4 linked regions of the Homo sapiens genome follow. The protein of the gene in region 4 interacts with the protein of the main gene of each other region in a biochemical or structural test. Each region holds a gene or a part of one and is shown on either strand. Other genes may lie near its edges.

Region 1 (7,027 bases), on a different chromosome or scaffold from region 4:
AAACTAATGAGCTAGTGAGTACCAGGTGTCTCCTGCTTGTATCACTCACTCATTCACTCAAACATGCACCAAGTGCCTACCATATGATAGGCATGGAGTTCCCACCTGCTCGGAAGTTACACCAGGAAATAGTGCTTGCAAGTCTTGAGTCCTCACTTTGCCACTTACCTACCAGTGACAGCTCTAATAAGTCCTTCAACCTCAAAGCCTCAATTTTCTCTTTTATAAAATGAAGATAATACCTGCCCTACCTATCTTAAGAGGACGCTCACAGAGGATCAAATAAGCCAATGTAAAAAGGCCCAGAGCACCTAGGACACAGAGCACACAGATACTTACTTGGACCTCAGTTCTCTGCCAGTGATGTGCAATCGGGTCTCCAACAAGTTTTTCCTATCCTGTTAAAAATAAGACAAAGTAAAACGTACTTGAATTTAACCCATTTTGGAGAGATTACCCTGTGAAATCAGAAAAGCTGACGGCAGAGGATATAAACTGAGTTCACTGTTAAAAACTAAAATGCTGCCTGCCTAGAAGTCTACTGAACATAACCCAGCACAGGCTGACCCTGTGACCTGCACGTCCTCAAGGGGGCGGCAGCGTGGCACCACCAGGCAGGGCTGCTCAGAGGGGCCGTCTCACACAGCTGGACGTCTTTAACATTTCAGAACATTTCCACCATCCCTCAAAGAAACACCATGGCCTGCACCCCATTCCCTCCCCTTTGCCCCCCAGCCCCTGGCAACCACTAATCCATTTTCTGCTGCTACAGATTTGCCTATTCCGGACATTTCATATAAATGGGATAGTGCAGTACGTGGCCTTTTGTGTCTGGCTTCTTCCCTGAGCATCATGTTTTCAGGTGCACCCACGTTGTGGACGCATCAGCACTTCATTCCTTTGCATTGTGAACAGTTTTCCATCGTATGAATAGACCACATTTATCTATCCCTTCATCTGTTGATGGACATTTGGACTATTTCCATCTCTCAGCTACTGAATAGTGTTGCTATGACCATTCATGTATGAGGTTTTACATATTAATATATATGTGGGCGGCAAGCCACCCAGGTGCCAAGGCAAGAGACCGAGGGCACAAATTGTTCCAGTATAATAAAGAAAATATATAGAATAAGAATAGTTACACTAGAAATAGATTATAGATATGATTATATATGAATATCATTATTAGTTTGTAGTATTACTCTTTATTTCAATATTACAATAATCTTTGTTCTACAATTATAACCTAGGAAAAACCAGGCCACACAGAGATAGGAGCTGAAGGGACACAGTGAGAAGTGACCAGAAGACAAGTGTGAGCCCTCTGTTATGCCCGAACAGGGCCACTAGAGGGCTCCCTCGTCTAGCGGTAACTCCAGTGCCCGGAAAGGCCCTCGTTACTTAGCAGACCTTGGTCTAGCGGTAGCGCCAGTGCCTGGGAAGGCACCTGTTACTTAGCAGACTGGGAAAGGGAGCCTCTCCCTGGGGTAGTTAGAGAAGACTCTGCTCCACCACCTCTTGTGGAAGGCCTGACATTAGTCAGGCCCGCCCACAGCCATCCAGAGGCCTAAACGTCTCCCTGTGACGCTGTGCTTCAGTGGTCCCGCTCCTGTTTCACTTTCATGTTCCGCTCTGTACACCTGGCTCCGCCTTCTAGATAGCAGCAGCAGAAAGTGAAAGTATTAACGTCTTTGATCTTTCTGAGAAGAGCATAGAAGAAATAATGACGTAAGCTGTCCTCTCTCTCCGCCTCGTCTACCTACAAGGGAAAGGCCCCCTGTCCGGTGGACACATGACTCCTGTGACCTTATCAATCATTGGAGATGACTCACAGTCCTTACCCTGCCCCTTCTGCCTTGTATCCAATAAATAACAGCACAGCCAGGCATTCGGGGCCACTACCGGTTTCCGCGTCTAGGTGGTAGTGGTCCTCCGGGCCCAACTGTCTTTTCTTCTATCTCTTTGTCTTGTGTGTTTATTTCTACGATCTCTTGTCTCCGCACATGAGGAGAAAAACCACAGACCCAGTAGGGCTGGAGCCTATGCTCTTATTTCTTCTGAGAGTGCTGGCATCGATCAGTCCCAAGAGGCTCTGGGTGCCTTGCCACAGTGACATTTCTAGATGCAAACTACCTGGCCATGGCAATGAGAGGAGGTGACCCCACCCAGATCTCCTCGGCCCTGCTTGAGAGCACTCAGCGGACTGCCCTCTGACCTCTACTGGAACAGGAAAAGGATGAAGCCTTCTGTGCTGTGTCCTCCTGCACAGGCTTCTAGGAAACTTGGGAATCCTTTATTCCCCATTATTTCTCAACGTTCACACGCTAGAAAGGATCAGAATGTGACATACAGCTCTGTGGCATTTTAGAAGCCCAAGAGGGTCTCTAAAAGCCTACCTTGGGAATGTTCCAGTTTAAGAATTTGTAACATTGACTTTCAAGCTGATAAATTGTTCAATATGTAAAGTCACTTAAAAGAATTCTGACTTTGGATTGTAACTTTCCAAACAACAACAATTTATTTGACCTCATCACTAACTGGACATTAGTGCCTACTCAAATTTAGGGAAATTACTCACTTTTTTTAGTCTTGGTGGTAAAAACACCTCGATTGTAGCAATTCCCGTTGTTCTATAATTGTCATTTCCTGTTCCACGCTCAATTGCCTTGCAACGTATTTCTTCTATTACCTTTTCTACTTCATTTTCACAGCATTCTAGTCTGTCAGAGTACTGCTTAGCAAGGTCCTATCAAGAAAAATCAGAAAATGCAATACTGACTTAAAAAAAAAAAGGCAAAATATAGAAAAGGGCATGAAAGACTCTAAGGCCATCAACTCTGATGAGTGGAGGTCGCCCCGTTACACTGCAGTCCACACTGTGGTTTGACATCTTGAGAGGTGTGGAGTTTAGAGAGGCCAGGAAAAAGTGAAAACACTTATTTGAGACTGGGCGCGGTGGCTCATGCCTGTAATCCCAGCACTTTGGGAGGCCGAGGCAGGCGCATCACTTGAGGTGATGAGTTTGGGACCAGCCTGGCCAACATGGTGAAACCCCATAACTACTTAAATACAAAAATTAGCTGGGCATGGTGGCGTGTGCCTGTAGGCCCAGCTACTTGGGGGGCTGAGGCAGGAGAATCGCTTGAACCCAGGAGGCAGAGGCTGCAGTGAGCCAAGATTGTGCCACTGTACTCCACCCTGGGTGACAGAGCAAGACTCCGCCTCAAAAAAAAAAAAAAAAAAAAAAAAGCAAAAAGCAAAAAACAAAAACATTTATTTGATAAATGTTTTCTACCTACAAATAGTAAAATAATAATAATAATAGAGAATCTTCTAAGGAGAAGAAAAGGGTGGGCTATGACTTATGTGACTGTGATCTATTTAAAAAGTATAATGAACTGTTCAACTCCACTGGAAGGGAAAATGAAAAAAAAACCCAGAAAATATTCCAATTTTTCAAACTTGTGAGAACAAATCAAGTTGGACTTAAACAATTCTCTTAATGAAAATCTGTGAATCATGGGTACTAGTTGTAAAACTATTTGTAAGGGAGAGCTTTAGAATTGAGAAAAAAAAGAAGATTGAAAGGGCTCAAGAAAGGATGGGAACCAGTTATTACTGAGAGCAAAGTCATTATGGTTCCTCCCCAAAAAAATCCAGATGAGTATCTCTAATCTAAAAATCTGAAATCGCCAAAATTCAGCATCTGGAGATGCTCAAAGGAAATGCACACTGAAGTATTTTGAATTTTGAATTTTCAGATTAGGATGCCCAACTAGTAGGTATAAAGCAAACATTCCAAAATCCAAACACACTTCCAGTCCCAAATATTTCAGTTACGGGATACTCCTCTCAATCTGTATCTGCATGTGAGGTTAATGTTTCATTAAACATCTCATAAAACAGTAAACACTTCAAAAAACCCTAAAGGTCAAGGTTTCATTAAATTCATAATGTAATACCATGTAGTACGTAAAAATTATGGTGTAAGCATAAATTTATGACAGAAGAGATGTTCATGATAAAAGTGAAGTTGGAAAACTTTATAGATATGAGTATAGATTGGGCGCGATGGCTCATGCCTGTAATCCCAGCACTTTGGAAGGCAAGGTGAGAGGATTGCTCAAGCCCAGGACTTCAAGACCAACCTGGGCAACAAAGTGAAACCCCGTCTCTACAAAAACTAAAAATATATTAGCCAGGCATGGTGGCATGCACCTGTAGTCCCAGCTACTCCCAAGGCTGAGGTGGGAGAATCACTTGAGCCCAGGAGTGTGAGGCTGCAATGAACTATGGCCATGCCATTGCACTCCAGCCTGGGCAACAGATCAAGACCTTGTCTCAAAAAAAAAGGAAAAAAAATTTTGTAAGTAACATAAACCTATATATACTTTTTTTTTCTTTTAGAGACGGGGTCTCACTACGTTGCCCAGGCTGGAGTGCAGTGGCTATTCACAGGTGGGACCATAGCATACTACAGTCTCCAACTCCCGGGTTCAAGTGATCCTCCTGCCTTAGCCTCCTGAGTAGCTGGGACTACAGGCATGCGCCACTGTGTCCAGCAATACATTTTTTTAATAGTTACGTAGGAAAAGAGGAAGAATATACCTATGTTAACGATGTTTAACATATTTTAAAAATACATTCTTTATATTTTTGTATTTATATACATACTTTTTAAAACCTAGAATATATATTATAAATACTTTTTTAAAAACTTTCTATAATTTTCTAGAAAACCTAACTAGTGAGGATTTCTTTCTTCCTCCTGTCACCAGCCAATTCTGACACCAACTGGAAGTCCTACGATTCAATTCTGACACTAACTACCCAGAGTTAGCGTTAGACTCCACAGGTTTAAGGGCTCAGCCCACAAAAAAGCCCTAACTTCAGATACCAGTTACCAAGTATCTGGTCCCCAGGTTACCCATACTTTTGTCTGACTTAGCTACAAAGTCGAGGGTTCACACAAGCACCCCCTTCAGGTTCCATGATTTGCTAGAACAACTCACAGAACTCCAGAAAATGGTATACTTATGAATATAGTTCATTACAAAGGATACAAATAACCATTCACATGAAGAGGTACTAAGGCAAGGTCTGGAAGGGTCCTGAGCATAGAAGCCTCTGTCCCATGGAGTTGGGGGTGTACATCCCGACATGTGGATGTGTTCACCAATTTGGAAGCTGTCCAAAATCTGTCACTTAGGGGTTTGTATGGAAGTTTCATTATGCAGGCCTGATTAAATCACTGACCATTAGTATTAGTCATCAGCTCAATCTCCCCTTCCCAGAGGTTGGAGGGGAGGGTGGAAAGTTTCAAGTGTCTAATCACGGCTTGGTACTTTTGGTGACCAGCCCCATCCTGAAGCTATCTAGGGGCAACCAAGCCTCATGAGCACAAAGGTTGCTCCTATCATGCTTACCACTTAGGAAATCCCAAGAGTTTTGGCTCTGCCAGGAACCAGGGACAAAGGTCAAATATTTTTCCTTTATGCCACACCTAGTTTCTAAACCAAGAGACTGTAACAATAAATTCAGAAGCAAGGTCAGAAGGTGGGTTGCAAAGAAAAAGTGAGGCCTGCCTGGAACAGAAGAAACAGAAGAACTAGGACCCTAATACAGTTTGTCACCTCCCAAGCACATCATTATGTCACAACACAGAGCAATTTAATGCCTCATGACAATCCTTAGTCCCTGATAAATGTTACATCATGTTCAGGATACTCTGAATGAGAGCAGAGAAGTACATGCTAGGAAATTCCAGTATGATAGATTTCTGGCAAAAATGAGTACTGTTTCTCTGCTTAGAAAAGCAAGCAGACTTCAGTTTCTAGAAACATCACTTACATACAATATCATTTCTGATGATGCCATGAAAAACTGAGATACAACTGTTAGAAAAAACCTATTTTGGAAAAATGAACACTGATAGTGAGAGCATCAAAAAAACTGGGGGAAAAAGGAGCAATTGTTTCACAGCAGATGATGATAGCAAGGAGGACCGAGAATGAGCCAAGACACTGTCACTTTGAACACACAATGCAATTACTTACTGGCACCAATACTGTTCCACTAATGGGTCAAAATGAGTTCCAGATAAATAATGTTATGTAATCCTGTGATGGTATTAAAAATATATGCCTGAAAAATTAGATAACATCCTCATGTGAATAAAATATTAATGAACAAAAATAAGGTTGTCAGTTCCTAGTAAAAAGTGGGTACCCGCTCACCACTAATGCTTTTGGTTATGCCAAAAGTTTATATGGTCATGCCTGACAATTCAGAATCTTATTTACCAAGGAGATTTATAATGCTGCTAATTATTGATGTCTTAAAAGAAAAATACCTTTAATGCCAAACCAACTTTTTTATTTTCATCTGTATATGGAGGTTTCCAAAGTTGAATCCTGTCTTCCCTTAAAAACTGGGTCAATTTTGCTTGAAGATATTTCTTTTGTGCCATCCCTGAAAGCAAAACAATACATTAATAAAACTCCACATCGCATTTTAAAATGTTAATAACTTACCTACATGTTAAGGTGCTTTGTTGGGTAAGCAAAGCTCCCTTCCTCTGTCATTAAATATAAATTACTATGGTTTAAATGAGCTCCAGACTTCTCTAAAAATATATATAGAAATATATGTTCAATTATATATATTACATATATAAAATATGTATTTCAAAGTTGCTAATATGTAGCAAGGATTATTACATGTTTCTATTTCTTAATCTGCTATTCTCTTATCTAAGAGAAAAGAGAAAATAAGAGAAAGATAAATCCCTCGAGTCGTGAACTTCTTTTTTTCTTTTTTGAGACGGAGTCTCGCTCTGTCGCCCAGGCTGGAGTGCAGTGGTGCGATCTCGGCTCACTGCAAGCTCCGCCCCCTGGGTTCAAGCAATTCCCCTGCATCAGCCTCCCTACTCACTGGGATTACAGGCATGCGCCACCACGCCCGGCTAATTTTCATATTTTTAGTAGAGACGGGGTTTCGCCATGTTGGCCAGGCTGGTCTCGAA
Region 2 (7,027 bases), on a different chromosome or scaffold from region 4:
ATATTTTTACTAGAGACAGGGTTTCACCATCTTGGCCAGGCTGGTGTCGAACTCCTGACCTCGTGATCCACCCACCTCTGCCTCCCAAAGTGCTGGGATTACAGGCATGAGTGGCTGCTCATGTTTTGTTTTGCTGGCCAATTGTTTTGTTTTGAATGTAATTTCCTCTAGCCTTTTTCAGGGTCTTTATCCTGTTCTCTCTTATATTTTCTGCTTCTGTGTTTTGATTTTAATTATCCCCATTGGTTTCATCTCTCCAGTTTTAAAGGAAGAGCAAATTACCACCCAGTCTCCTTTTCAGAGTGAAACTAATAAAAAGTTGTTGATAAATGCCAGGGATCACAAGGCCCACAGGCCACATCCAACAAGTGGCCTGTTTTTGCACTGCCCACAAGCTAAGAGTGTTTTTACACTTACAGGTTTGTTTAAAAATAAGCAACAGAGATCTTGGTGGCCAATAAGCCTAAAATATTTAGTAATTACTCTGTTTCTTTACAAAAACTTCGCTGACTCCTGAATATGCTGTTTCAATTTCCAAGATTACTTCAAGGCTCAATCTGAGCCCCCGTTCTGTGTTTATAATTTCTCTATAGGTGATCTCTGACCTGTGTATAGCTTCACTAACAACCTCTGTGTAGTCAGCTCACAAACTTACATCTATCCCAAGCCTCTTTCTCCAGACTCATATATCCAGCAGCTATATCTTTATGTAGCTATCCCAGAGACAATGTACACTCAAGTATACTAAAAACTAAATTTAGGATCATCTCCAAGACTGATACTCTTTAATTCTCTTTTTTTCTCTCAATGAATGACTAAACCGTCCAGCCAGAAATAAAAGAAACTTGGAAGCTGTCCCTGAATCATGCTTCTTCCTTACTATCGTGACTAAACCCAATACGTTTTAACCATGAAATCTCTTAAATCTACCTATTGCTCCATATCTACCAGTTTATCCTCCTACAAGCTTTCATTAACTCTTGCTTGAATTACTGATTGACTAACTAGTGTCTCTAGATCCCCTCTTTAACATCTCCAGTCCACTTTCCGTATCACGGCTAGAATGATAGTTTTGAAATACAAGTCTAATTGCTTTACATCCTGTTCACACACAGTAATGACTTCCCTGGTCTTGAAGTATATATTTTTTTAATTTGATCCACCAGGCTTTGCATGGTCTGGCTCCTGTTAATCTTGCAAGGATTACTTTGTTTTATTTTGTTTGTTTGTTTCTTGATTGCACTTGTAGTGGGCTGCTTCCAGCCCTCTATATGCTCTTCCCTTGGCAGTATTTGAGGCCTGTATCTTCTTTCGTATCCTTTTGCATATTTAATGCTGTTTATCCCTAGAGCTAAACTCAGACCTTTTCTGACCTCCCTGAGTGGCTCAAATTTTCCTTTTTTTATGCTCTCATTGCATCTTACATCTTTCTTTCATAGCAGCCATTACAATGATAATTTCTCATTTATTGGTGTGATGAGTAGATTAATGCCCATCTCCTATGCTTTTATGTTGGATTAGGATGAAACTACCACATGTTCAGTATTCTGTCCTCAGCACCAATTACTGTACCTGATACAGATACTGAGAATTTGAAAACAGAAGTTAGATTATTGATGGTGCAAATTTTCTTGCACATAGGAGGAGGTCCCAGATAGCAGTGGTAGGAATTTGCTGAGGATAGGGAGTGGGACCCGAGAAGAGAGCTACTTTATGATGCAGTGGACCAAGAAAGATGCCTTCCTTTTTATATGTTGCAGATTGGTTATACAAGTGTTCAGTTCAGAAACTGGTTGTAGTTATCTCAAATATTGAAAGTGGTGAGGTCCTGGAAAGATGGCAGTTTGATATTGAGTGTGACAAGACTGCAAAAGATGACAGGTAAATAGGAATTACATTATTTCTACTTTGATATATTTTTTTTCAAAACTTGTTTTTATTACTAATTGAGTTCTAATTGTATTGAACTAGTTTTATATAAAATATAGTTTGTTTCTAATTTATATTTTCTAAGATATCCTCAGTCACCTATGGAAAAGAATTGTGCTCAGTTTAGCATATCATTGATTTGTATATATAATATAATTTTAACATAATTGCCTTTAGTCTAAATCAGTAGTTTTCAAACAGTATTTATGGTGATATATACAAAACTACACATGATATACTAGATGAACCATTTAATAATTGTTCTAAGATATTTTTAACTATAAGGAATGATATTAGACTCACACAATTTAAGATGTAGCTCTGCTGTACTTCCTTTAATGCCATCTACTTCCTAAGACACTTCATAAATTTCTGAAGGTTCCAGACTCCCTGGAAGAGAAATGCATTGTCCTAGGCATGCTCTTCTATAAACTGAGAACCATTTCTTATAGTGAAATGTAGTTTGCTTCTGAAGGCTTTGGTGTATTTTAGGAAATTTTTAGCTTATAAAATAATTTGATATACAATTTAATGTTTTATTTGAGAAAATAGGAAATTAGACATTTAGGCATTACTAAAAATGCTGAAATGATTATACCAATACATATTTTAGATATCACTTATTTTTATTTCAAGAGATGCTGAAGTTTCCTGAACTTGAAGTGATTGGCAAATTTTCTAGTCATCTGATACTAAATGACCTGACACTAAGACCAGCTCTAAAAGATGACTGGCAGGATAAATGAAGTAATAAGGATGAATGTTGTGCCTACTAGGTTGTAGGTCTGAAGGATACTTTCACTCACATTTTTTACAAACCTCCTTTCTCAAATAAGCCCTGCTTATTTGATGTTGAGAGCATTTAATCAGATAAATAATCTAACCACTATGTTTGAAATAATTTGTTAAGACCTGAAATGAATTAATTGATTTGATTTTTTTTTGACAGTGCACCCAGAGAAAAGTCTCAGAAAGCTATCCAGGATGAAATCCGTTCAGTGATCAGACAGATCACAGCTACGGTGACATTTCTGCCACTGTTGGAAGTTTCTTGTAAGTATTATACAACTTCTTGTTGAATTAAATTGATTGGCAAAAAGACTAAGCTACTGCCGTAATCACCCCTTTATTAAATTTTGTCTTATTTATCAGATTTATGTAATATAAATTGAAGGAAAAACATTATCATGCAAAAGTAATGTATCGTAGTCTCCCTTTCCACAGGGAGACCCACAGTGAATACCTGAAACCATGGATAGTATGAACCCTATATAATGTTTTTTTCTTATGCATACATACCTATGATAAAATTTAATATGTAAATTAAGCATAGTAAGAGTTAATAATAAACTGGAACAATTATAACAATATGCTGGCATCACTATTCTTGTGCTTTGGGACCATTATTAAATAAGATAAGGGTTACTTGAACACAATCACTAAATTGCACGGAAGTTAGATACAATATTTTCTTTACTGAAATAAATGTTCATTGAGCAAAATAAATTAACTAGTGATTGGAGACCAAGCCAAATGACCTTTTCCAGCAGTGAGTGGTTCAAAATAGAAGAGAGGCAGCAAGATTAGTTTTACTTTTAGAAAATAATATACTTCAATGATCTTATCCCCAATTTAGGTTCATTTGATCTGCTGATTTATACAGACAAAGATTTGGTTGTACCTGAAAAATGGGAAGAGTCGGGACCACAGTTTATTACCAATTCTGAGGAAGTCCGCCTTCGTTCATTTACTACTACAATCCACAAAGTAAATAGCATGGTGGCCTACAAAATTCCTGTCAATGACTGAGGATGACATGAGGAAAATAATGTAATTGTAATTTTGAAATGTGGTTTTCCTGAAATCAAGTCATCTATAGTTGATATGTTTTATTTCATTGGTTAATTTTTACATGGAGAAAACCAAAATGATACTTACTGAACTGTGTGTAATTGTTCCTTTTATTTTTTTGGTACCTATTTGACTTACCATGGAGTTAACATCATGAATTTATTGCACATTGTTCAAAAGGAACCAGGAGGTTTTTTTGTCAACATTGTGATGTATATTCCTTTGAAGATAGTAACTGTAGATGGAAAAACTTGTGCTATAAAGCTAGATGCTTTCCTAAATCAGATGTTTTGGTCAAGTAGTTTGACTCAGTATAGGTAGGGAGATATTTAAGTATAAAATACAACAAAGGAAGTCTAAATATTCAGAATCTTTGTTAAGGTCCTGAAAGTAACTCATAATCTATAAACAATGAAATATTGCTGTATAGCTCCTTTTGACCTTCATTTCATGTATAGTTTTCCCTATTGAATCAGTTTCCAATTATTTGACTTTAATTTATGTAACTTGAACCTATGAAGCAATGGATATTTGTACTGTTTAATGTTCTGTGATACAGAACTCTTAAAAATGTTTTTTCATGTGTTTTATAAAATCAAGTTTTAAGTGAAAGTGAGGAAATAAAGTTAAGTTTGTTTTAAATTTGTCTTAAAACATTTTGATACTGGTTTGGTGTTGATATAGTTAAATGGTAATTAGAATTGATTCAGCATAGCTAATGAATTCTTGTTCCTACGAAGTTATAGAACTTAAGGGTCCAAAGTTGAGTGAGTCTTGAGGTGTCTTCAATCTAATGGATAAACTTTGATCACATCCTGTTCATCTCATAGCAATAGACTTAAGGCTATTACTTCATCATTGTGAAAAGATAAATGTCCTTTGGAATTAGTCCAACAATTCCAGTTGAACAAGTGTTGATTTTAGTACTTTACTATACTCTTAGCCTTATTGTCAGCCTACTTTTCCTTATATACTTAAATACTATGCTTATTCCTGTGCTTTCATTAATACCCTCATCTGGTACATGCTTTCTATCCAGTTCTCACCTGTTTTTCCAAGGTCAGTTTAAGGCAGATTTGTAAAGTCTTCTCTAATCTCTAATCTAAATCTGACCTCATTTTGTAAAAATTCAGTTTATTAATGTTTATTATTAGACACTAAGTTCTTTATGTGTATTAACTTATTTAACCTTCACTATTTTTAAGTAATTGCACATAGTCTGAATCTGTTCATTCAGAAATTACATATTGAGCAAATACTGTGGATCAGTGGCAGTTTCTGGGTTCTCAGTGACAAATTTGTAGACTCTTCATATCTTTATGGAATAAGTGGACCACTGGTGTTACCAACCTAGATGATTTCAAGAAAAGTGGCAATTAAATGCTTCATTTGTATTTTAACTATTTGAGAAGTCAGACTAAATTCTGCGAAATCACTTTTCCCCCCCAAGATGGAGTCTTATTCTGTCGCCCAGGCTGGAGTACAGTGACGCAGCTCAGCTCACTACAGCCTCTGCCTCCCGGATTCCAGCCATTCTTCCGTCTCAGCCTCCTGAGTAGCTGGGATTACAGGCACGTGCCACCACACCTGGCTAATTTTTATATTTTTAGTAGAGAGAGGGTTTCACCATGTTGGCCAGGCTAGTCTTGAACTCCTGACCTCATGATCTGCCCGCCTTGACCTCACAAAGCATTGGGATTACAGGCGTGAGCCACTGCGCCCGGCTGAAATCACATTTTTAAAGGTTGTGTGTATACTCTGGTCATTTCAACTCAGCTACCAATATTAACAGGATTAAATTCTTAGATTTTTGTATCATTTGCATGCTACTATTTACTCTGAGGTTTCTGGAGAGCTAGTCATGATGAGTCATTTTACCCCTTACAGATTATATAATCAATTAAGAAATACACATTTTGGGCTGGGCGCAGTGGCTCGCGCCTGTAATCCCAGCACTTTGGGAGGCCGAGGCAGGTGGATCACGAGATCAGGAGTTTGAGACCAGCCTGGCCAAGATGGTCAAACCCCGTCTCTACTAAAAATATAAAAATTAGCTGGGCGTGGTGGCGGGCGCATCTCAGCTACTTGGGAGGCTGAGGCAGGAGAAATCGCTTGAACCCATGAGGTGGAGGTTGCGGTGAGCCAAGACCGTGCCACTGTACTCTAGCCTGGGCGACAGAGCAAGGCTCCATCTCAAAAAATAATAAATAAAAAAGAAATACACATTTTGGAGCTGAGTGGGAGCCAAACTATGAGTTTTATTGAGGTGAAGCTATACTGGAAAAGCTTTGCCCTGTAGCTCCAAGTGGACTGTCCCATCCTCTTTCTAGACCTTGAGGCTTACCTCAGGAGGATGATGTTTAAATCAACAGCTGAAAGACTTGTGAGTGGTTTCTACACCATGTTAAAGAGAAGGTTCTAAGACAGCATGATAGGCCTCTAGGCCTGGCCTGGACTCTGGCTCAGTGTTGCTTACCATATGTAGAGGATGAACAGAGGTTAAGCCCATCAAGGTCTGAAGTAGAGCCCAGGAGGAACTGAACTGTATCTGGCTTTCAGGATCCTTTTCCCAGTGTCATCAATCAGAGAAGTCAAACCTCTGTGAGAATGCTTGTGCAGAGGTATAACAGTCTCATGTATTGGTTGGCTTTTGCTGCACCTTTCTCATTCTGTTGGAGGGACATTGGTTAGTCAGGACTCTGAAGGCCAGCTTTTTCACACTGACCAAAGCAAGTGAAGGTCAAGCCTAACTTTAATGGGACCAGGAAGTATACTCCTCCCATGGAGGTGGTGGGAATGGCACCGAGAAGTTTGATGACAGTTATCTAATGGACTAGAGGTTGGCAAACTTTCTGTAAATGGCCAGGTAGTAAATAGTTCTGCTTTTGAAGGCATATGGTCTCTTGCACCTACTCGAGGCTGAAAGCAGCTATAGACAATACATAAATGAATGAGCGTGAGTGTGTTCCAATAAGAAAAAAACATGGCTGTTTGCTTCGGCCCCAGGGTTGTAGCTTACCAGTCCTGTAACAGATCACAGTTTGCTCTTTTGGTCACAAATACTTGAACCCCTCCCTAGTTCAGAGCATTTGATACCGTAATATTTAAAGCTCACTTGTAAAACATCGTTTGTTGCCTCCATCCATAGTATCTCAAACAGAATGTCTCTCCCAAATATACCTAAATTCCATATTCTCTGAAGCACAACCAGCTATTTTCTTGACATACTTCCTAACACACCCCACAG
Region 3 (6,437 bases), on a different chromosome or scaffold from region 4:
GAAACCTCAGATCCAACTCCCTTGAGCTGCCAAAGCAATTCTCACCACGTGGGAGAAATTCAGCTCTCAGACTGTCCTCCAATTTCCCACCTGTGGTCAATGGCAGGCACCCCTTCTGCCAAGAAGCTACCATGACCACCACATTCAAGTTAAACCTGGACCTCCCACCATCCCCAGTCAGGCCAATGAGACAGTGGGGAAACAGGCCTGGTAAGGATACTTCCTGCTAGTTTTCTTGCCTTCTCAGCCTAGGGTGTGGGTGTGGCTGGGACTGGCTGTGAGGCTCCTATTTATAAGGCAAGCACCCATTTTCTCATGGATTCTACCATTTTATATCCCGTGGAGCCAGTCAAGATGGCTGCTCTATTTTCAGTTAGTTTTTTGGGGGCAATGGATGGGCAGGGGATTGACCTGACAGAGACCCACTCCCTCATTCCTTCATTACTCATCGGCTCTGCTGGCCAGGGATGTGGGGTTCTCCACCTGCTCAAAGTCAAAAAGCTTTCTCCAGGTTTTTTAACAGCTTGTACTTTATTACATATGCAACCTTGCCATGCCTGCCAGTTAACTCCCCTCCCGCCAATGTTATCCTCATGATATCAGCTCCCTCTTGGGGCCACTGAGCTGCCCCCCTTTCCTTCTGGGCTGGAGTAGTGGTGCCCCTCAAGCAGGCAATGGGCAGGGGGAGATCCACAATTAATCGTCGCAGTTCTCTTAAAAGTATTAACACTTAAATAAGCACTCTTGGGGAGTTGCAAAGGATATTCAGGATGGGATGCAGTGGGAGGCTACCCCTCATCCAAGGTACAGGCTGGAATGAGCTACAGCTGGTCTATCGTGGGCCTCAGAAGGTGAAGAGGGACCGTATTCTGGGGCTTAGTGTGGGTGGGGCATATCCTCCCCAAACTTGTTCTGGTGGGCGATGTTCTTCACATCTAGGAGAGCCTGAGGAGGAGGCAAGAATAGGGCAGGTGAGAGAGAGTGAGGACCCCTCTACCTCGGCTGCAGGGCTGCCCCCACTCCAGCCCTCAACCACTCTGTCTTCTGGACTATCCCACAGCCCCCGCCCCATGCAAAATAATCACATGAGGCAGCCATGCAGAGGGGCCTGTGGTCTCCCTTTACCCAATCACAGAAGGGGTGTGTGTGTGGGGGGTGAGTGTGCACGTGTCGAAGGGTCTACCCAGGGCCCACCTGGTGGTGGACATAGGCCTGACAGTAGTAACACCAGGCTGACAGGTCGATGTAGCTGAGGACCAGCGGGTGTCCAGAATTTCCATGGTGTTGGAGCATGTGGCCATTGATGTAACGACCACAGTAGACCTGAGGTTGGGGGTGTGAGTGTCAGGTGGGGGTCAGCATCCCCCTGCAGTTTGCTCCCGGGCCAACCTCCGCCCCATCCCCTTCCTCTGCTCCATACCTGATAGCAAGAGAGACACACCCAATTCTCTTGGATTGTTCCACAGTCCCCACAAGGTTGGGTCACGTCTAGGCCTGCTGCAGGTATGGGGCATACTGCCACCAAATGGGGACACCAGGGCAGTGGTGTCACAGCATAAAATATGGCCTGGAGTGGGTGGGTGAAACTAGGTAAGCTGAAGACCCCATCTCCCCATTATATGTTTATTCATCACATGCTCCTACCTGGAGACACAAATTGGCAAGAGAAGGAAGCCACAGTCCCAGCCTCTCCCTGAGCTCACCTGATCAGTGAGGCCCCTAGATCCCTGCATCAGCATCGAATCAGCCATGTCCTGACCTCCAGCTGCCTCTCCTAGTAGGTTCTCCTCTCCTGGGGCCTGAGATTCTGAGGCCCCCTGGACACGCAGAAGTAAGAGATGTATCAGAGAAGCCCGATTCTTGCCCCTTCTTGCCCCTACCTGGGTGTGGTGAGCCTTACCTGAGATTCGCTGCCTAGCTCCAAGGTCCTGAGACTCCCAATCAGTGTACTGGGAGATATCTGGGGTGTAGTTCCCTGCACAGGTGAGGTTGGGGGGGTCTGGTGGTCTGTGCTCGAGGCTAGAGGAGTTTGGATCAGCTCGGTGCCCCCTGGAGCCTCCTCTGACGTAGTCTGGTCCAGTGTGGCTCCCTCCATGGCTGCCTCCGAGGTGGTCTGGGCCAGTGTAGCTCCTCCTACAGCCTCCTCTGAGGTAGTCTGGCCCAGCGTGGCTCCCCCAACAGCATCCTCTGAGGTGGTCTGGTCCAGAATGGCTCCTCCCACAGTCTCCTCTGAGGTGGTCTGGTCCGGAGTGGCTCCCCCGACAGCCTCCTCTGAGGTGGTCTGGCCCAGCATGGCTCCCCCAATGGCTGCCTCAGAAATGGTCTGGGCCAGAGTGGCTCCCCCTGTGGCTGCCTCTGAGGGCTGGTCCTGAGTGAGGGCCACCACAGCTGTCTCTGAGTTAGTCTGGCCTGGAGTGGACTCTTCCCCAAATGATGCCGAGGTGACTTTCCCCATGCCTGCTTCCAGAACCTTCTTTTCTCGTGTGGTCATCCGCTCAGCTAACCTAGGTTTGGCTGGTTGGGGTGCCTTCTTGGTGACCAACTTAGAACTGGAGGGTCCTTCTCTGTCTTCTACCTCTGGAACCAGGGAGGGAGATCCTTGAGTGTGGGTACTGTCACCCTTCCTGCCTCTGATCTCTGCCCCTCAGCCCCCTCCTTCCCTGGGTTCCCCCCATCACCCCCAAATCCACTCACTCATGACCCGTAAGCTGCGCCAGTATCTGCGATGGACTTGGATGGTCTCAGTGATTGAGGCCAGGGCCCCTGATAGTGGGGGCCGTGGCAGGGTCAGCAGGGGTGGTGGGTCTCCAAGGAGGGAGCGAGTGCAGGCAGCCATGGACTCTGAGATGGATGTCAGGTTATAGCCACCCTTTGTTAAGGAAAAGGGGAGGGAAAGGTATGGTGGGGGTTCATTGGGGAATTTGGAGGACAACATGTCCTGCCTCCCCAATCCTCCCTACTGAGCCCTGCAAGTCTGGAGAGGGAGGGGGAGTACTGAGAACAAGTGAACAGAACCCACACCTTTAAGATAGGCAGCACCCACTGTGTAAGGTGGTTGTTGTGGGGAGTAAATTGTGATGTAAAGTGCAAGATAACAATACTGATAAAAGCATTAGTAACAGCTGACATTTATTGTTTGCTGTGTGCCAGACCCGATTTTAAGTACTTCATGCATATTAACTCAATCCTCACAACCACAGGCGCTCAATCTATACAGGAACTTGCCTTCATGCCATACAGAAATCCGTCTTCACACTGTCCAGGAACCCCTGGCCTCACATCATACAGTAACCACTGACCTGACCTGCACAAGACGACTGCTGTGAACCCATACAAAAGCCCCTGCCCTGACCTAGTACAGGAACAACTGGACTCTTTCTCCACATGGACTCCTGTATTGACTTTTTTTACACTCTACAGGAATCCCAGTTGCTATTCTTTTTACAGATAAAGAAACTGAGGCTCAGAGTGGTTAGATGACTTGTCCGAGGTCATAACAGCTGAAGAGGCAGCACTGGGGTTTGAACTTGGGCTCTCTGATGGAGTCATCTGTGTTCTTAACTCCCACCGTGTCCTGTCACAAGCAGTACTGGGCACATAGTAAGTGCGACTTTTTGCAAGCCAATTAATTTCTCAGTGACTTATTTTCCTCATCTGTAAAGTGGTGAAAATAACAGCACAGGCTGGGCGCGGTGGCTCACCCCTATAATCCCAGCACTTTGGGAGGCCGAGGCGGGAAGGTTACCTGAGGTCAGGAGTTTGAGGCCAGCCTGGCCAACATGGTGAAACCCCCGTCTCTACTAAAAATACAAAAATTAGCCAGGCGTGGTGGCATGCGCCTGTAGTCCCAGCTACTCGGGAGGCTGAGGCATGAGAATTGCTTGCTCGAGCCTGGGAGATAGAGGCTGCAGTGAGCCGAGATAGCGCCATTGCACTCCAGCCTGGGTGACACGGCGAGACTCTGTCTCAAAAGGAAAAAAAAAAAAAAAAAAAAAAAGAGGCAGGTATGGTAGCTCATGCCTGTAATCCCAACACTTTGGGAGGCTGAGGCAGGTGGATCACGAGGTCAGGAGTTCAACACCAGCCTGGCCAACATGGTGAAACCCCGTCTCTACTAAAAATACAAAAAAATTAGCTGGGTGTGGTGGCAGGCACCTGTAATCCTAGCTACTCAGGAGGCTGAGGCAGAGAACTGCTTGAACCCAGTGAGCCACAATCGCACCACTGCACTCTAGCCTGGGCGACAGAGCAAGACAACGTCTCAAAAAAAAAAAGAAAAAGAAAAAGAAAATAAGAGCACAGAAGGTTGCTGAGTGGGTTAATATCTGAACAACGCATAACAGTAACCAGGGGCCAGGTGCGGTGGCTCATGCCTGTAATTCCAGCACTCTGGGAGGCTAAGGTGGGTGGATTTCTTGAGGCCAGGAGCTCAAGACCAGCCTGACCAACATGGTGAAACCCCATCTCTACTAAAAATACAAAAATTAGCTGGGCGTGGTGGCGGGTGCCTGTAATCCCAGCGACTCAGGAGGCTGAGGTGGGAGGATCACTTGAAGCCGGGAGGTGGAGGCTGCAGTGAGCTGAGATCATGCCACTGCAGACTAGCCTGGGTGACAGAGCGAGACTCTTGTCTCACAAACAACAACAACAACAACAACAACAAAAAACCAGATCCAAAAGATCCAGCATTTACCATATGCCAGGCATTCCTCCATGATTAGCCTGCCTCATAAAGATGAGGAAACTGAGGCACAGGGCGTGGGGATACTGAGTCATTTACAAAGGTCAGTGAATTTCCTTTGTCCCAGGAACTTGTTAGAGGCAGTTCAGGTAGAGTAAAAAGCACAAACCCTGGAGCCAGGCTGCATGGGTTCAAGTCCTGGTTCTGCCATCAGTAAATGTGCCATCTCAGGCTAGTCATCACACCTCTTTGTGCCTCAGTTTCCCTGATCTTCAGAGAGGAAAATGAGGTAAGCTTACCCTACCTCATAAGGCTGCTTTGCCAAGTAACTGAATGAATAAGACACATGAGGTGCTCAGAAGAGTGCTCTGCACATAGTGAGCACTCAATTAAGGCTGTTAATGTTGCTGTTATTCTTATTACTACCCAGTATGTGCCAACAATCCCAGGCAGGGACACTCAAAGGAGATTTCAGGAAACTGTCCTGAGTGATGGTGCCAACATTTCCAAACTACCCTCCCACTGTGGGAAGAGGGACCAAGAGAAAGTTACCTCTAGGATAAGGATAATGCGGCCACTGGCAAGGCCCATCAGCAGGTGGGTGAGGTGGGCATAACCCTCAGGTGACACCTGGCAGCCCCCCAGCGGATCCCCCCGTGCAGCATCAAAGCCAGCTGAGACCAGCACCAGTTCTGGGTTAAACTGAGGCAGGGAGAGAAGAGATGTATAAGCATGAGGGTAGGGGCTTTTGGTAGGCAGTAAGTGATGGCGACCCAGAGACATGGAGAAAAGGACAAATGAAGACATGGAGATGCAAGTCAGAGAGATGGAGACACAGAACCTGGAGACTAGGAGACACAAAAGCAGAGACTGAAAATGAAGAAGGGAAGAAAAGAAATACAGACTCAGAGGTAGAAGAAATAGATGCAGACTTAGAGACATGGAGATGGCAGAAAGGGACAGATGGGGGCCGGGCATGGTGGCTCAGGCCTGTAATCCCAGCACTTTGGGAGGCCGAGGCGGGCAGATCATGAGGTCAGATTGAGACCATCCTGGCTAACACAGTGAAACCCTGTCTCTACTAAAAATACAAAAAATTAGCCAGACGTGGTGGCGGGAGCCTGTAGTCCCAGCTACGCAGGAGGCTGAGGCAGGAGAATGGCATGAACCCAGGAGGCGGAGCTGGCAGTGAGCCGAGATTGCACCACTGCACTCTAGCCTGGGTGACAGAGCAAGACTCCATTTCAAAAAAAAAAAAAAAGGGACAGATGGGGACATGAGACAGACTGACACGTCAAGAGAGTGACATGAAAAACAGAGAGACAGAGACATGTCCTCACACACACATACCCCAGGGTCAAACGTGGGACACACATACACAAGATACAGGGTTTTATATACATAGTGCCAAAGAGAGGTGCTTGCACACTTCCAAAACAGAAGATGGCAACGCAAGAACCACATACAGAGAAGATGGTCACACAGAGCCACACGTACTGCCACACAGACAGTACCATATAGATCAGTACTATATATCTGCACTAGTCATGTACACACACACAGTTTCTCAAAGAGGACAATAACCCACAGCCATCCTGCACAGTCACATACACATGCCATCACCACACAGCCACAATGGCGACATGCACTCTGGTATGTCCACAAGAGCTGGTTATTTGCACATACAGTTGTACACACACAGAAGGCTGTCCTGGCTACCCATGCACAGTCAGATGCACATGCAGATCCAAAGATG
Region 4 (7,574 bases):
AAAAAAAAACCAAAAGAGTACTAATAGGATAAGTTCCTAGAAGCAGAATTGCTGAGCTAGAGGATATGAACATGAAAAATTTTAAATTATATTTTTATTATAATCTTTGATACTACAGATAAATAAATGTAACCCATATAGAATAATATAATGTAACACTATAAAACATAATAGTAGCATAATGAACACTCATGGTTTTTACATTTTTATAAGAGCCTTATTGCTTACATATGTAGTTCTAGATACTATATTCAGTTTTGCTTATGTTTAGTTTTCTTTGGAACATTTGTTTTAGATATTATTACTTTACCTTTAATAAAGTGAATATACGGTATGTCTCTCAAGTAATAAATTGCTTTAACAAACATTAAGTTCTCTTGGTTAAACTTCAGATTCTGAATATGGCAAGATGAAATAATATCAGGGCTTCTAATGCCCTCTTACTTCCTGTTGAAAATCTCCTTCAAGTAGCTTATATCAAAATTTAGATTGGGCTTCATTTTTGTTAAAAAGCAGACATATCCTGAATTTCAAGTAGTTCCTCTTTTTCTCTGTCTCACTATGTAGTTTTGCTTGCTTTTGAGATTTATGGAGAGTATCATACTTTATGTAGTCTTACTCATCTTGCTTTTGTTAGATATAGTGAACTCCAAGATTCTCTTCAAAGAATCAGTATGTCAGCATATTCATCTCTCTTATTCTTTGATTCTCCATTTGAAAGTTGAGCTTCCGGGTTCTCTTCACCCTCTTGCCTCTAGTTTCAGTAAACAACTTTCCTGTCAGTTCTAATCAGTGGTTCATATCTGTTCCCCTGGTCACCTGCTCCATCCGGAGTCACCCTCGGCCACCTGCTTTGATTTGAATCATCCTGAGTCACCTGTTCTGTAACCACCCTTCCCACCAAACTACCCACCCTGCCGCTCTGGCTCATACCCCTGCTCTCTTTAAAATAGCCAATCGGAATTAGCTTAGATTGTGTGGTCCAAACCTAGCCAATAGGGGAACGACACAGCAGTAGGGGCTACCTGCCTCAGGAATAAGAACTCCTTCCCCTCCCTTGTCCAGGTATGCTCTTGCCATTACTCCATCCGCGAGTCACACCCTTCTATAGAAGTAAAAATTCCTTGCTGAGAAAATTGAATTTATGTCTGAGTGCTATTTCTTTGCGGCACCGTGGAATAAGCATTTGTTTCTAACACTTTTTTCACTCAATAGGTTCTAGCACATTCATCTGTATCGTTGTTTGCAGGTATGATCCTTCTATTTATGCTGCTTATGATATTCTACAATTTGGTTACCTATTTCCCTAATACTGATAGGCATTTGGTTGTCTTGGTTTGGTATGTCCATGTTAAATTTTGGTAGGTATTTTCAAACTGTTCTTCTTTGAGTGTAGACTTTTTTCCCAATCACCAATAAATGAGAATTCACACTAGCTTTCTGACTGAGTTTGGTTGGCATTTTTGAAGCAATATTCTAGATCTCAAAGCAGTTTAGAAACTCTTTCATGGACGTTATTAAAGAGACTAGAAAGAGACATCTGTTCCAAGTAGGCTTCAAGTAGGCTTCAATGGGGGCAGTGACAGGCCCAAGAGCATCCCGTCAGCCAGGGCCACATTGGGACACTCGTAGATAACCGCCACAATTGTTTTATAACTTGGCAAGATCTTCATACCATCATCTTTTTACTTTTGTTACTGGAAAGGGATCCTGATCCAGCCCCCAAGAGAGCGTTATTGGATCTTGCACAAGAAAGAATTCAGGGTGAATCCATAGAGTAAACTGAAAGCAAGCGTATTAAGAAAGTAAAGGAAAAAAAGAATGGCTACTTTATAGGCAGAGCAGCCCTGAGGGCTGCTGGTTGACTATTTTTATGGTTATTTCTTGATTATATACTAAACAAGGGGTGGCTTATTCACAAGTTTTCCAGGAAAGAAGTGGGAAATTCCTGGAACTGAGGGTTCCTCCTCTTTTTAGACCATATAGAGTAACTTCTGGACATTGCCATGGCATCTGTAAACTGCCATGGCCCTGGTGGGAATATTTTTTAGCATGTTAATGTTTTATTTAGCATATAATGAGCAGTGAGAATGACCAGAAGTCACTTTCGTTGCCATCTTGGTTTTGGTGGGTTTTGGCTGGCTTCTTTACTGCTTCCTTTTATTTGCAAGGTCTTTATAACCTGTACTTTGTGCTGATCTCCTCTCTCATCCTGTGACTTAGAATGCCTAACTTCCTGGGAATGCAGCCTAGTAGATGTCAGCCTTATTTTATCCAGCCCCTATTCAAGATGGAGTTGCTCTGGTTCAAACACCTCTGACACTTTAGTTGGTTTTCTGAATTTGTCAGAGGGGTAAATGATGTAGTTTGGATGTTTGTACTCTCCAGATCTCATGTTGAAATGTGACCCCCAGTGTTGGAAATGGGCCCACTGGGAGATGTTTGGGTTGTGGTGGCAGATCCCTCATGAATGGCCTGGGGCTGTCATCATTGTAATAAATGAGTTCTCACTCCATTAGCTCACAAGAGAGCTGGTTGTTTAAAAGAGCCTGGCATTTTTCCCACTGTCTCTTACCTCCCTCTCTTGCCATGTGACACGCCTGCTCTCCTTCACCTTCCACCATGAGTAAAAGCTTCTTGAGGCCTCACCAGAAGCAGATGCTGGTGCCATACTTCTTGTATAGTTGGAGGAACTATGAATCAATTAAACTTTTTTTCCTTATAAATTACCCAGCCTCAAGTATTCCTTTATAGTATGCAAAAGAGACTAAAACAGCAAATGAAAAGAGATCTGTCTCTGAAAGAACTTATTGTGACATAGAGAGAGACAGAAAAAAGTCAGATTGACACTGGGTAAGAAGCAAGGAGGTCAGGTCCCAAGATGAAGTCCTGCCTGTGGTCAGCAAAGGGGCACCAAGGTGTCTGGGACAGTCCTGGCCCTGGCTTTGGGCAGGGAGGGAATTTCCCATAGGAAGGGAAGAGTAAAGAGAGAGAGAGAGGTCAGAGTCCAGGTTTGTTGTTCATATGTTTTCTTGAAAGGGCACTATTTCCCAGAATCCAGGTCATCTCTGGGTAGGGAATCCCCTGAATTAGTTTTTTCTGAGAGTATATTAGATTTGCCCTCACAGTAACCCCATGCTGGAAATACCCAACTCCAGTAGCACTTTTCTCCCTGCCTTTTCCCACTGAAATAACATAATAATATAGGAAGAATACAAGGACTATAGAAATACAGATTAGTGTTTGAACCCTTGCTTACCAGCTACTACTAATATGATTGTGGATGAGGTAGCTTCTTACTTATTAACGGGGATACTAATAGAGGTGGTTCCTTACAATGATTCCATTTATGATTTTTTATTTAATAGTGATACCAAAGCAATACATACTCAGTAGAAACCTACTTCAAGTTCCCATAAAATCATCTGCTTTTCACTTTCAGTACAGTATTTAATAACTTAAATGAGATATTTCACACTTCAGTAGTAAATACACTTTTTGTTAGATAATTTTGTCCAACTGTATGCTAATGTAAGTGTTCTGAGCATGTTTAAGGCAGGTTAGGTTAAGCTATGATGTTTGGTGGGTTAGGTGTATTAAATGCATTTCTGATTTTGGATATTTTCAGTGTACAATGGGTTTACAGGGATGTAACCCCATCATAAGTGAAGGAGCACCTGTACTTACTTCATTAAAATGCTGAAACAGTAAATAAGGTAACATTTAATAATATGTTGTGCAGTTCTTGAAATTTAAGTACTCACCAAATATTACTTTTCCTTTTTTTGTTATTTACTTACTTTTCATTCATTTATTAATTCATTTGTGCATTTAGTAAACATTTATAAATTATTTCCTGTGCCTGACAGCATGCTGGAACAGTGCTAAAGATACAAGTTAATTAAGACACAATCACGACCCCCAAGATTCCTACTCTTTTCTAAAGATTACAGACAAGCAGACGATGCTATTGTTGAAGAAACATGCTCTGAGAGGCATTTGAAGGAAGTGTAGAGGATAGAAGATGGACACATAACCCAGGATGGGGAGGAAAAGAGTTAGGGAAGGCTTTTTGACGAAGATACTGTTTACACCGTGTGTTCTTATAAATTCATGGTGGTGGGGATAGAGTTGGAGGAAAAGGCATGCTCAGTGGCGTGGAGATGGCAGAGAGATTGGGGTGTTCAAGGATATGCCGGGAATTCAAGGAACGAGAATTCCCATAGACACAGACACAGCTAGACATAGAGATCTGCAGCTTAGGTTTGGGCTGTGGGTATAGATCCAGGTGGCTTCAACAGACAAAGATCTTTCCTGAGAAAAGGGAAAAGTTTTCAACACAGAAAGACCATCCCATGTTTGGAATGAGGTTTGCAAATAGATTGCTTGAGGAGAGAAGTATGTGATCAGAAAGCATTCTTTGTCTATTAACTCCTGCCCAGCAAAAGTGAAAGAAAATTCATGGGAGCATGCAAGAACAAAGAGCACAGCAAAGCTGGACAAACACAGCAATCCAGGCAGGGGATTTCCAACTCAACTCTGGTATATAAGCTGCATGCAAAGTCCTTTTTCTGTCTCTGGTTTCTGGCCCCTTGTCTGCAGAGATGGCTCCCAATGCTTCCTGCCTCTGTGTAAGTTGGGATTTGATAAAGGGGATGGGGAAAGGAAAAGCACTTTCAAGAGTTGGGGAGAGATCTTAGAAACGGGGGCTGGGCAGTACTCAGGGCTCTGGGGGGCTGGGCAGGCATCCTTCAGGAGAAGAGGCTGGCATTGACATTTGCAGAATGGGAAGAGGGATTGTCTGAAGAGAAGCTGGTTATCTGGCTTCTGTGTTCTTTTTTAAATAAAACATTGGACTAGCTACTCTTAGGGATAAATGGTAGAAGAAAAAGTGGGGGTGAGCTTTGTGTTCCACAGGGCTGGTGAGATTTGAAATTATGGTAACATTTTTTAAGGTTCTTAAACTTAATCTTCCCTCTCCTCTCAAAGGAGAGCTTCACAAAACTCATTCATCTGAAGTTGTTAATGATCTAACACATTACATTATATAAGAAAATATGCACTATGGAGAGAACCTGGAATTAAGGCAATGCTTAACACAGATCTTCCAGTGAAGAAATGTCTGCAATATCTAGATTGGGAAAATATTTCTGAATGGAGTATGAGGGAGGTCTTCTCAGGCTTTCAAGTGGCCATTAGGGGTGAGTTTTCCCATCTTTTAGGATTTTCCAGCTATTGAAGTAAGACTTAGATATAGTCCCTACCTTCTGTGAGTGAGGCCCTAGTCTTATCAAAGGAGATCACATTCTATATTAGTGTTACCAGGGGGTCTTTGCTCCCAGAGCTCTCAAGATGGTGGTGGGCTGCTTCCAAAATGGCCGCAGGCCGCTTCCAAGATGGTGGCAAGCCTCGTGTTCTCTGACCTGGGGTTCTTGGCCTCATGGATTCCAAGGAATGGAATCTTGGGTCATGTGGTGGTTGTTACAGCTCTATTAGAAGCCATGGGTCACGGAAGAGAACCGTGGACCCAGTGACTAGTGTTCAGCTCGATTAGGAAGAACCTGGGCACTTAGCCGTGCAGAACAATGGTACGCCTTTAGCCCAATCAGGAGCGGCAATGGGCGCCTCACTGGTTCAGAAGCACAGCGGACACCCTGCCAGATCCGAGGGATGGAAGTCAGCCGCGGGTCTGCGACGGTGGCAAACGGCAGTGGTGGATGGCAAGCGAAAGCTCACCTCGAGCCGTAAGAAACATAGACCAGAAGAGTGCAGTTGCAAGATTTAGTAGAGTGAAGACAGAGCTCCCATACAAAGGGAGGGGACCCAAAGAGGGTAGCGTTGCTGGCTCGAATGCCTGTGTTTATATCCCGATCATTGTCCCTCCCGCTGTGATCTCAGGCAATAGATGATTGGCTATATCTTTACCTCCTGTTTTTGCCTAATTAGCATTTTAGTGAGCTCTCTTTACTACCTGATTGGTCAGGTGTGAGCTAAGTTGCAAGCCCCGTGTTTAAAGGTGGATGCAGTCACCTCCCCAGCTAGGCTTAGGGATTCTTAGTCGGCCTAGGAAATCCAGCTAGTCCTGTCTCTCATTAGATAGAAATAAAAACACAAGAAATATAAATTAACAAGAAACACTGAACATAGTGTCACGGTAGTATGTGAGTTATTATTATAAAGCAGTGGGATATTTGAAAAGAAACTAACAGTTCAGTGATTATGTGTCCTACCCAGGATTTCCTTCTGAAGTATTGACAGAGGGTATCCTATGGCTATGAGTATCTTCATGAGGCTGTCATATTTTGGAAATTCTCTTTGAGAGTTGTTTTTAGAGTCTGATGTACATCTTTTGAAGCCTCGTATTTACTTGTTGACATTTGACAAACTTTATCTGGATAGGAGAGGCAGGTAAATAAGGTGGAAAATCACTAATTACATTTTGAGATGGATAAAGGTATGTTTTTTACATCCATTGAAATGCACAGAAAAACGAAATGTAAAGATTGTCAACTAAAAAAAATCACACAATTCATAAATTTAGAAGGGGAGTTTATTTCTTATGAAAGGTTATAGTCTGCAAGGTAGCCATTCTGACAGGCTGGGAAGTTTTGCTTCTGATTGAAAACCAAAAGCAAGCACTTTGCAGGAGGAAAGGTGACACAGGAATTTATGCTGAAGGGGTTTGCTAAGTATACATATCCAATAGGTTATAGCAGAGGCAATGAATATTCATGGAGGGGGTCCTAATGCATGCATATTGAATAAGCTTGCATGTTACATACCACCCATGGTCACTCTGAAGTGGAGACTTAACATTTAATTGCATTACAGTTAGGCCTTATACATGAAAAGGTGAAGCAGGGACACAAAGGCATTCAAATGCACAGCTTCTGTAAACTAGCCAGAACCAGTCCATGGTCAGTGGTCTCTTATCAGGAGAAAATTACTGAAATCAGTCTTTTGTCCAATTAAAACTGTAGTTATGGCTTGTGGAACACGGGGTCAGTTAGCCTGTGTTCCCCAACACAGGGTGAGCTGTAATTGTTTTAATATTGTTCCTGTCAAGGCCAGTGCTTGTTTAGCTGCTAGAGAAAAAAGAAAAAACTTTGTGGCAGAACATAGTTTATTCTTTAAGTGTAAGGGATGCATGACTTAACTTTTGCCTGTTATAGCCCTCGGTCTTGTTTATAATTTGCTATCTTATTGCCACAAAGAATCCATTCTCTCAGTCTTATAATCTCTAACTTTGCTGGTCAGTTGTGTCTAAACTGCAAAAGGGAGAAGATACAATGAGGCATATCCAACCTCCTGTTCCATCATGACTGAATGTTTTATTTATTTATATTTTTGAGACAGAGTCTCACTCTGTTGCCCTGGCTGGAGTGCAGTAGTGCCATCTCCACTCACTGCAACCTCTGCCTCCTGGATTCAAATGATTCTCCTGCCTCAGCCTCCTGAGTAGCTGGGATTACAGGGACTTGCCACCACTACTGGCTAATTTTTGTATTTTTAGTAGAGACAGAGTTTCACCAAGTTCACCAGGCTGGTCTCGAACTCCCAGCATCAATTGATCA

The links.
Region 1: the proteins of UBD (region 4) and NUB1 form a complex in vitro, tested with the Homo sapiens proteins (6 studies listed by BioGRID, with this or other methods).
Region 2: the proteins of UBD (region 4) and MAD2L1 form a complex in vitro, tested with the Homo sapiens proteins (2 studies listed by BioGRID).
Region 3: the proteins of UBD (region 4) and HDAC6 form a complex in vitro, tested with the Homo sapiens proteins (2 studies listed by BioGRID, with this or other methods).

The regions. Positions count from the first base shown.
Region 1 is NC_000007.14:151,344,795-151,351,821, reverse strand, and holds part of NUB1 (NEDD8 ultimate buster 1), read right to left. Parts: intron 6,475-7,027; 5' UTR 6,473-6,474; coding exon 6,356-6,472; intron 2,750-6,355; coding exon 2,582-2,749; intron 399-2,581; coding exon 340-398; intron 1-339. UniProt on the Homo sapiens protein: Specific down-regulator of the NEDD8 conjugation system. Recruits NEDD8, UBD, and their conjugates to the proteasome for degradation. Isoform 1 promotes the degradation of NEDD8 more efficiently than isoform 2.
Region 2 is NC_000004.12:120,056,829-120,063,855, reverse strand, and holds part of MAD2L1 (mitotic spindle assembly checkpoint protein MAD2A), read left to right. Parts: intron 1-1,760; coding exon 1,761-1,881; intron 1,882-2,878; coding exon 2,879-2,982; intron 2,983-3,565; coding exon 3,566-3,738; 3' UTR 3,739-7,027. UniProt on the Homo sapiens protein: Component of the spindle-assembly checkpoint that prevents the onset of anaphase until all chromosomes are properly aligned at the metaphase plate.
Region 3 is NC_000023.11:48,819,052-48,825,488, reverse strand, and holds the end of HDAC6 (protein deacetylase HDAC6), read right to left. Parts: intron 5,384-6,437; coding exon 5,234-5,383; intron 3,305-5,233; exon of another isoform or gene 3,226-3,304; intron 2,870-3,225; coding exon 2,695-2,869; intron 2,578-2,694; coding exon 1,901-2,577; intron 1,818-1,900; coding exon 1,704-1,817; intron 1,568-1,703; coding exon 1,421-1,567; intron 1,324-1,420; coding exon 1,195-1,323; intron 946-1,194; coding exon 877-945; 3' UTR 513-876; downstream 1-512.
Region 4 is NC_000006.12:29,556,732-29,564,305, reverse strand, and holds the start of UBD (ubiquitin D), read left to right. Parts: upstream 1-4,573; 5' UTR 4,574-4,604; coding exon 4,605-4,631; intron 4,632-6,532; exon of another isoform or gene 6,533-7,574. UniProt on the Homo sapiens protein: Ubiquitin-like protein modifier which can be covalently attached to target proteins and subsequently leads to their degradation by the 26S proteasome, in a NUB1-dependent manner.